Linked DNA regions of Homo sapiens: region 1 is linked to region 2. The links come from fine-mapping of genetic effects on gene expression. A gene starts in region 2. The other region holds a variant in brackets. All regions are shown on one strand. Distances are between the middles of the regions.

What was found. PIP is the estimated chance that this variant, and not a neighbour inherited with it, causes the effect. A credible set is the group of variants that fine-mapping cannot tell apart.
Region 1: its variant is the best candidate, but not a certain one, in a credible set for the expression of PGPEP1L in left ventricle (GTEx, PIP 0.62).

Annotation. Positions count from the first base shown.
Region 1 is chr15:98,976,076-98,981,075 of GRCh38, forward strand. All of the region lies in intron 2 of PGPEP1L (pyroglutamyl-peptidase I like), which reads right to left. Among named protein-coding and RNA genes, the nearest start is that of PGPEP1L, 29 kb to the right of the region's middle. The variant G/A (reference allele first, on the strand shown) is at 2,802.
Region 2 is chr15:99,005,587-99,011,112 of GRCh38, forward strand. PGPEP1L (pyroglutamyl-peptidase I like) reads right to left here and starts at 2,206. Exons shown (of 5, transcript NM_001167902.2): 1 at 1,773-2,206; 2 at 1-70.

The DNA.
Region 1 (5,000 bases), 30 kb before region 2:
TGGAGGGTTATTGTTAATGAACACAGAGTGTTAGTGTGGGACAATGGAAAGTTCTAGACACGATAGTAATGATAGTTGTACAACAATGTGAATGTACTTAATGCCACTTACTTGTACACTTTAAAGGGTTAAAATGGTAAATTTAATGTTATACATCAATGTTATACATATTTTACCATAATTTTAAGAAAATTATGGCTTTCACCATCACCAACATTTTTTAACCTGACTAAAAAGTTTGCTCTGAACGAAGACTAAATCCGTAGTAAATCATTTAGCTCAGGCTAACATCCCTCAGGGATAATAATTAAGTTGGGATTTTAACTAAGCATACTCTTTTCCATATCTGAAAGCCTTCTAGAGTTCTATGGAATCACAATCTAAAAGTCATTTTCTCATATCACAACAATAAAATCTGAAGCCTAACAGTATTTAAGCTGCTGGTTTGCTGAAAATGTCTCAGGACTTGAGGTGTCCTGAAGAGAAATCATTATGGATGGCAATTATTCCCATATAAATGCTGTATTGCAAAAACCCAGATCAAAACATAGATGTTTTCCTAGGAACAGAAGAGGCAAGGAGGGGCAGTGGCCACTCCAGAATTTTCTGGTGGCTGAGGCCTGAGCACGGTGAGCTGGCTGGAGGAGGGCATGGTCTTGGTAAGGGAAGCTCATGAGTAGATTATGTTTACTTGCTGCATCTCAGAGACATGAGTAAAGACATGAAAATTTTAGTGGAGATAATACATTTTTACAGATTATTATTTTATTTCACTGAATTATCACAGCAACCTTTCAAGTTAACAAGAGGAGAAACAAGGAGGGCCTGGTCAACTTGGGCCTCATGCTCCTCACCTGTATAATGGGTACAACAATACTGTATCCACCATAATGATTATTAGGACCCTAGAGAGGTCAAGTAAAATGGCAAAAAAAAAAAAAAAAAAACAAGTCTGTAGTGACTTTGATAAGAGTAGTTTGAGTATGGAACCAGGCCTGGAGGCCAGGCCATGGTAAATATATTTAAAAGTTAATAGAAATGGTCTTTTATTTTTTTTCTTGATCAATCTAAATGAAGGTTTATCAATTTTATTAATTTTCTCAAAATATTAACTTTTGGGTTTTGGTTTGATTTCTATTGTTATATTTCTGCTACTTCATTGATTTCTGCTTTCATCTTTACTATTACCTTTCTTCTGCTTAGTTTAATTTGTTCTGTTAGTTTCTTAAGATAGAAATCAAAGTCACTGATTTGAGAACTTTCTTCTGCTATAATATTGTTTAGTGCCATAAATTTCCCTCTGATATGTTTTAATTTTCATTCATTTCAAAATGCTTGCTAATTTCCTTTTTATGTCTCCTTTCATCTCTGGCTTATTTAGAAGTATCTTGTTTGGTTTCCAAAATTTAGGAAATTTCCAGATGTCTGTTATTGATTTCTAATTAAAATCCACTGTGGCCAGAGAACACACTTTATGTGACCTGAATCCTTTTGAATTTATTCAGACTGGTTTTATGGCCCAGGGTATAGTCTCTGTCTTGGCAAACACTGCATATGCACATATGAGAGTGTGTTCCATGCTGGGTGGAGTGTTCTACAAATGTCAATGAGGTCTGGTAGGTTGGTAGTGTTGTTAAAGTCTGCTGTATCCTTTTTGGTCTATGTGTTCTGTCCGTTATTGAGAGGGGTACTGAAATCGTTGACTATTAACTGTGAATTTATCTATTCTCCTTAAAGTTCTATTAGTTTTTGCTGCACGTATTTTACAAGCACTGTTATTAGGAGCATGAATGTTTACATCTATTATGTCTTATTTATTGACCATGGTTCATTGAATGCTTAATACCTAATTGCTACACGACATTCTGACTCCACATTGTGAGCTCTAGAACACAGCTCTCAAGGGAGGTAAAGGTCAGGAATAGTCTTACAAGTGGGCAAAAAATAGGGTGAGCCCAGCAGGCTGTTGGCTGAGGGCTGCTGCCCAAAAGGCATCTTGTGGCTCCCCAACCATTTCCCCATCTCTTGGGGACCCAGTGCCTGAAATTTCACCTCCAGAGATCTTTTCGGTTCATTAGTCCCTGTCTAGATAATTTTGCAAATGCCTGCAAGAGAGGAAACACAGCAGCACACATGCTTCCCTGATGAAAGAGAAGGCGCTGTGTGTGAGCACTAGGGCCCAGAGTGGAACCCGAAACTGGGAGAGTCGGGGCACCCCTGAGAGGTGCAACTTCCCAAGGCTGGTCTGGGGTATGGAGTAATCATCTGTGATTACAGATGTCAGTGTAGAGTCCAGGGACCTAATTAATGGCATCTCAAACTGGCTCACAGCCTGCAGGCCCAGGCAGGCCTACTGGATTTTGGAATCCCAGATTTGGCATCTGTAATGTAATGCTGACATTTTTCAAGATTTGTACCATGGAAGTGGATGTGAGGATGGAGATGAGAAAAGGTTTGCCCAGTAGACTTCCCTTTTTTGTTTTTTCCCCAAAAAAAACTGTGTAGAACGGAAAAGAACTAAGACTTATCTTCTGAATCCTGGACCAAATTAGACATTCTGCTGCCCTAAGTAACCTGCCTGATTTCCAGGGCCCCACTTATTTGTGTCTTTTTCTCTAGCATTAGACTGTGTATATATATATATATATATATTTTTTTTTTTTTTTTTTTTTTGAGGCACAGTCTTGCTCTGTCACCAGGCTGGAGTGCGGTGGCATGATCTCGGCTCACCGCAACCTCCGCCTCCCGGGTTCAAGCAATTCTCCTGCCTCAGCCTCCCGAGTAGCTGGGACTACAGGCAC[G/A]CGCCATCACGCCCAGTTAATTTTTGTGTTTTTAGTAGAGATGGGGTTTTACCATGTTGGCCAGGATGGTCTCGATCTCTTGACCTCGTGATCCGCCCACCTTGGCCTCCCAAACTGCCGGGATTACAGGTGTGAGCCGCCGCGCCTGGCTACAGGATATATATATATATATATTTTTATTACATTTATGGCAGCACAAATATAGCCCCAATGCCCTCAAGATTCTGGTCTGGATTCTGTGAAACAAGATAAACAGGTCAGACTGTTTCCCATGCTGACAGAGTGCGTAACCCAGGAAGGATGTGATGGATTTCATCAAATCTAAGTCCCAGAGATGGAACATCGAGCATTACTGTACGAACCAGCAAGACAGTAAAAGTACTGCTCAACTATGACAAAGCATAAGATGCAGCTGCCTGTGAGATTCATCTGATTTCAGGATGCCAAAATTAAAACAAAAAAAAAACCAAAAAACACCTGGCTCTTTGCATCAATAAAATATGGTAGGCGATGAGTACAAGAACAGGAGGACATGCACATAGCAACACAGCACAGACTTCTATATATAAGTAGTGTGGTTATTTAATAAGTGCCCAACAATTTGCAATTGCAGAAATGTGAAACCAGCCCAAATTCCCATCAATCAATGAGTGGATAAAGAAACTGCGGTATATAGATAGGATGGAATACTACTCAGCCATAAAAAGAAATGTATTAATGGCATTTATAGCAACCTGGATGGGATTGGAGACTATTCTTTTTTTTTTTTTTTTTTTTTTTTTTTTTTTTTTGGAGACAGAGTCTCACTCTGTCACCCAGGCTGGCGTGCCATGGCACAATCTTGGCTCACCGCAACTCTGCCTCCCGGGTTCAAGCGATTCTTCTGCCTCAGCCACCACAGTAGCTGGGACTACAGGCGAGTGCCACCACACCCGGCTAATTTTTGTATTTTTAGTAGAGATGGGGTTTTACCATATTGACCAGGCTGGTCTCGAACTCCTGACCTTGTGATCTGCCTGCCTCGGAGACTATTATTCTAAGTGAAGTAACTCAGGAATGGAAAACCAAACACCATATGTCCTCACTCATAAGTGGGAGCTAAGCTATGAGGATGCAAAGGCATAAGAATGATACAATGGACACTGGGGACTCGATGGGAAAGGGTGGGAAGCAGGTGAGGGATGAAAGACTACAAATTGGGTTCATGTATACTGCTTGGGTGATGCTGCACCAAAATCTCACAAATCACCACTAAAGAACTTACTCATGTGACCAAATACCACCTGTTCCCCAAAAACTTATGAAAATAAAGAATAAATAAATGAAAAGTGTCCAACTTAGTCTAACTTTTAATACAGCTAAACACACAGCCATAAAAACAAAGTGTGGACTCGTGCCATTTCCCTTGGAGCAGAGAAACCTGAACGATCAGGGAGGCATTGTCCTAGGATAGTAAAGGGAGGAGGGGGGAGGAAAAGGTTTCAGGAGGAGACAGACTTTCAAAAGGAAACAAGCCATAGGCCAAAATATGAGAAATAAATATTCATGAGTCCATCCTGATCTAATGAAATGACTACATACATAAGTAAACAAATAAGTAAGTGGGTCCAGGAGGAGGACTCAGCTCTCTCATGCACTTGCACTCCCAGTAACCGATGTAACTCCTCTACCCTGAAGCAGAGAGGAACTCCCCCACTCGAGTGTGGGCTGCGCAGAGTTACTTCCTTCCAAAGAGGACAGGATAGAAGTGGGGACAAAAAGTAACTGTATGGTGGCCAGGTGCAGTGGCTCACGCCTGTAATCCCAGCACTTTGGGAGGCCGAGGTGGACGGATCACCTGAGGTCAGGAGTTTGAGACCAGCCTGGCCAAAAGAGTGAAACCCCGTCGCTACTAAAAATACAAAAATTAGCCAGGCGTGGTGGCATGTGCCTGTAGTCCCAGCTGTTCAGGAGGCTGAGCCAGGAGAATTGCTCGAACCTGGGGGGCAGAGCTTGCACTGAGCCAAGATCACCCCCACTGCACACTAGCCTCAGTGACACAGAGAGACTCCATCTGGAAAAGGAAAAAAAAAAAAATTAACTGTATGGTAGAGAGGCCTGACAAACACTCCCTCCACCAAGTAAGATCAAGGTCATCATGGACAGTGCTGTCACACTGATACTGTGTGCCCTTGATCTGACAGGATGAAAGTGACACTT
Region 2 (5,526 bases):
TGGAGCGGGAGCCCAACCCCTCCTGGCCGCCCGGCGTCCGTAGCGTTCTGGGCCCCGAAAGGCCAAGGATCTAGGGGAGGGTGATAAAGCAATGCCCCTTGAAAGCAGAACGATCCAGCTCAGGACAGCGGGTTGGAGCGCCAGCAGGGACTTTCTGGACATTTGAGTCTGGGTCACTTTGTTGTTCAGGATGGTTCAAAGGTGAGCTAAGGGTTTGGCTACCAGCTGTCCCGGTTTGCCTGGGACAGAAGGATGTCTGGGACGGAACACCACATGGTGCTCAAAGAGGTACTGTCCTAGGAACTGTGGGCTACCCTACAAGTCGTTTACTTAGATCTTATTTTTTCCTCTTTAGTAATCCCTGCCAGAGCCCCTCATTGTGTTTGGCCATTATGATTTGGTAAAATTTGATTGCTCTGAAAACTAATTCCACAAAATATGTGAGATGTGAGCAGAAAAAAAAGAGAGAAAACCATAGATGAATCTTATGGCGCCTGCCTTTAAAATATTGATTGCAAGCACCGCTGCCTAGGAGCTGTGGGTCCTCAGGGAAGTTAACCTCTGTGCTCAGGTTTCCTGTTTTGAGAAACGAGGATCGCAGCACCGGATCCTGTATGGATTCTTTCTGTGCCCCAGGCACTGTCCCCAGCTTCATCAGCCCTGAGGAACAGAGGCTTGCCACCTAGCTAGCGTCTGTGCAAGCTTGCTAGCTCTGTGCTCACCACCCTGCGTTCTACCTGCGAAAAGTGCTTTCTTGACACTGTGCTGGACTCCTTAAACATGCCACTGACAGTGAGCCACAGCCGTGGCATGCCACCTGGCTCTGCAGACAGTCCTCTTTTTAATGTGTCAGAATAACTGAAAAAGGCTAACATTTGAGGCTATTTCCTCTATCGAAAAAGCTGTTTTCCAATATCTTGATCTTTCGGAGAATTCTATTTAAAAACAAAACAAACTTTTGGCCAGGTGCACTGGCTCACGCCTTTAATTTCAGCATTTTGAGAGGCCAAGGTAGGAGGATAGCCTGAGGCCAGGAGTTCAAGATCAACCTGGGCAACGTGGCAAGACTGCATCAATTATTTTTTTCAAAACGTGGTATATGCCCATAGTCCTGGCTTCTCAGGGAGGCTGAAGCGGGAGGATCACTTGAGCCGTCAGTCGTAACTGCACCTCTGCACTCCACCCTGGGTGACAGAGTGAGACCCTGTCTCTAAAAATATTCTTAAACTTTTTTTTAAACTGAAAATACTTTTTTCCTGAAGCTGTATATTAAGAGGAAGAAGACCCATGATTCTCTGTCCCCATCTAGGTCTGGGGAGGAGAAGCTCCCTTCAGGGAAGCAGGCAGAGCCTCTCAAGCACCCTGCGGCCTCTAGAGAGCTCAGTGTGACAGCAGGACCACGTGGCTCCATCTGCTGAATTGTCCTCCTGATATAAAGCGCTCCCTTTTAATTGGGATCACCCCCGCGGATTAGACCCCCCTTGGTGGCTTTCTGGGATTCTGAACCAGGAACAATTCCCTTTAATTAGCTCCTGGTGTGGGCTGCAGGCCTCTTCACTGCCAACAGGTGGGAAGCGCCATTTGCTCCCACTAGTCTCCCACTCCCTGTCCTGAGAAGCTGGGCCCACCTTGCCATGAGTGGGATGCAGAGGATTTTTGTACTTTGCCTCATTTCACAGAAGTTACCCGGTTTCTCAATATACCCCGGATGCACTTGTAGACTTGGTCTCTACCTCCTCTGGTGAGCAGCTCTCCTAGCTCCTATCACTTACCTAGTTCCGTCATGGTGTGTCCAGAATCGGCGGATTCTTGGTCTCACTGACTTCAAGAACGAAGCCGCGGACCCTGGCGGTGAGTGTTACAGTTTTTAAAGGCAGCGTGTCCCAAGTTTGTTTCTTCTGATGCTCGCATGTGTTCGGAGTTTCTTCCTTCTGGCAGATTCGTGATCTCGCTGACTTCAGGAGTGAAGCTACGGACCTTCATCATGAGTGCTACGGCTCTTAAGGTGGCGTGTTTGGAGTTATTCGTTTCTCCCGGTGGGTCCGTGATGTGGCTGGCTTTAAGAACGAAGCTGCAGACCTTCACGGTGAGCGTTACAGCTCATAAAGGCAGTGCGGACCCAAACAGTAAGCAGCAGCAACGGTTATTGCAAACAAGCAAAACAACAAAACTTCCACAGCACAGAAGGCGACTCCAGCAAGTTGCTACTGCTACCTGGGGCAGCCTGCTTTTATTCTCTTATCTGGCCCCACCCACATCCTGCTGATTGGTCCATTTTACAGAGAGCCGATTGGTCTGTTTTACAGAGAGCTGATTGGTCCGTTTTGACAGGGTGCTGATGGGTGCGTTTACAATCCTGGAGCTGGACACAAAAGTTCTCCACGTCCCCACTAGATTAGCTAGATACAGAGTGTGGACACAAAGGTTCTCCAAGTCCCCACCAGAGTAGCTAGATACAGAGCGTCGATTGGTGCATTCACAAACCCTGAGCTAGACACAGGGTGCTGATTGGTGTGTTTACAAACCTTGAGCTAGATACAGAGTGCCCATTGGTGTATTTACAATCCCTTAGTTAAACATAAAGGTTCTCCAAGTCCCTTCCAGACTCAGAAGCCCAGCTGGCTTCACCCAGTGGATCCCGCACCAGGGCCGCAGGTGGAGCTGCCTGCCAGTCCTGTGCAGTGCGCCTGCACTCCTCAGCCGTTGGGTGGTCGATGGGACTGGGTCCTGTGGAGCAGGGGGCGGCACTCGTGGGGGAGGCTCAGGCCGCGCAGGAGCCCATGACGCGGGGGAGGAGGCTCAGGTATGGCGGGCTGCAGGTCCCGAGCCATGCCCCGCACGGAGGCAGCTAAGGCCCCGCGAGAAGTCGAGCACTAACAGCTGCTGGCCCAGGTGCTAAGCCCCTCACTGCCCGTGGCCGGCGGGGCGGGCTGGCTGCTTGGAGTGCGGGGCCCGCCGAGCCCACGCCCACCCGGAACTCGCACTGGCGCGCAAGCGCGGCGTGCAGCCCCGGTTCCCGCCCGCGTCTCTCCCTCCACACCTCCCCGCAAGCTGAGGGAGCCGGCTCTGGCTTTGGCCAGCCCAGGAAGGGGCTCCCACAGTGCAGCGGCGGGCTGAAGGGCTCCTCAAGTGCCGTTAAAGTGGGAGCCCAGGCAGAGGAGCCGAGAGTGAGTGACGGCTGCGAGGCCTACCAGCATGTTGTCACCTCTCAGTGGGGGCTTGGCTTCCTCTGCACAGTTAAAGGAAGAGATTGGACCATTAAGAAATGCCCACTTCTTCTTTTTTTTTTTTTTTCAGATGTAGTCTCGCTCTGTTGCCCAGGCTGGAGTGCAGTGGCGCGATCTCGGCTCACTGCAGCCTCCGCCTCCCAGGTTCAAGCAGTTCTCTCCCTCAGCCTCCGGAGTAGCTGGGATTACAGGCACCTGCCACCAGCCCTGGCTATTTTTTGTATTTTTAGTAGAGACAGAGTTTGACCATCTTGGCCAGGCTGGTCTTGAACTCCTGACCTCGTGATCCACCTGCCTCGGCCTCCCAAAGTGCTGTGATTACAGGCGTGAGCCACCGCGCCCGTCCAGAAATGCCCACATTTGTAAAGTTGGTTGCTGCTAGGGTCCAACTCTGCTATCAACATTCACCTATGAGGTCTGGGAATGGGAACTTGTGTTTAAGGAGACTCCTTAAGTGCAAAGACTGCCCATCTTTAACCATACTACTTTTCTGATAACAAAGCTGAAATTTTCATCATTTTTTTTTTGATTTGACAGGAGCTATTATTTTAACTAAACTGGAATGTGTCCTGCAGTTTTCACTTTCCCATAATTCACTTATTTTTTTCTGTTCTAAAGTTTTCTCTAATTTTGAAATTAATAGAAAAAACAACACAAAATATTTTACTTAGTCACAGTGATATGTCTATTTTTGTATTCATTCACCTCCCCTCTCCCCACACAAGAACCCCCCAGCACATTCCTACTTTCTGGAATGAAAATAGCTCTGAGAAGTATGGATTTTGAGGTTCAACATCTGCACTTTTATTTCTTTTTCCATTGTAAAAACAAATGGTCTCTAATAATTGATGTCAAACACAGTCTTTAGGCTGATGAAATACAGTAAGCCTGAGAACGAATAAGGCAACTAAATGGAGCTGTTTTATTTAACAGAGAGCACAGTGATCTTCCTTACAAGCGGGATTCCCGAGAGGAAAATGTTTGTAATCAGATTTGACTCTAGGATTAAGAGGGCAAGGTGCGACCCTCTTAGTGAACCGGAAAGTAAGCAACGGTACACAAGTGTTCTCACCAGGGACAGCAAATGGGAGTTGCCAAGATTACAAGATCCCAAGACCTCAACTATTTCACGTGCTGAACTAAACTCAAAACTTTGTGGGATTTGTTTTAAATTTCTCATTGGCAAGTGGTGACTTCCTGCTCTCGCAAGAAAAAAGATTAAAGGGGTTTGTTTACTGTCTCTGACACAAACAGCTCTTACAACACATTTTGTACACTTGACATAAATGAAATTTAATCAAACTGGTCAAATTCCTTTGGGAGGTGGGGAGAAAATAAATCAATCAGCAAGAAGCACTTGTGATTTCCAAAATAATGATAACATAAGTCTTTCTCCATGTCAAACATCACTGTTTCCAGATAAGCGACTTAGCTCTACTATAAAACACAACCCATAGCCAAATTGCTTCTTGTCAAAGCACTAAGGGATCCTCCAATAATGTCACTCTACCAAGGCAGATTCAGAACTCACCCTCCTCTATACCTCTGCCTCTGCAGCTTTGTACCCCAGCAGGGGCCAGCCAGCACACGATTTCTGAAAAGGGCCATAAAATAAATGAATAAATGTAGTAGACTTTTTTTTTTTTTTTTTTGAGACAGGGTCTCACTCTGTGGCCCAAGCTGGAGTGCAGTGGTGCAATCTCGGTTCACTGCAACCTCCGCCTCCCGGTTCAAGCAATTCTCGTGCCTCAGCCTCCTGAGTAGCTGGGATTACAGGTGTGCACCACCACACCCGGCTAATTTTAGTAGTGCCTGTAGTCGCAGCTAATCGGGAGGCTGAGGGAGGAGAATGGCGTGAACCTGGGAGGCAGAGCTTGCAGTGAGCCGAAATCGCATGCTGCACTCCAGCCTGGGCGACAGAGTGAGACTCTGTCGCAAGGTGATATTTCTGTTACATTTTGTAGGAGAAGGATTTGTCTTTATTTTTCTTCTGTCTTATATTTTTCCCTCAGACTTTTGCTAAGCCTTGATCACTTTTTTTTTTAGGGACTACAGCTCCTTGACTGCAAAGTAACAACTGTTGCAAAAGGAAGTTTTCTACTTGTTAAAATCCAGTAGCTTGTTACCCCTATTGTTTAAATACTGGATTTTTCTTTCAAATTTCACAAATATCTTAGGAATGACTGGAACATTTGTGTTCTTAACACTGAGGAAATTCCTGTGTAGACAAATGAGGCCAGATGGAGGGTGCAGCAGAGAGCTTAATATCCTCTTGGAATGGAAGAGGGGCCACACTAAA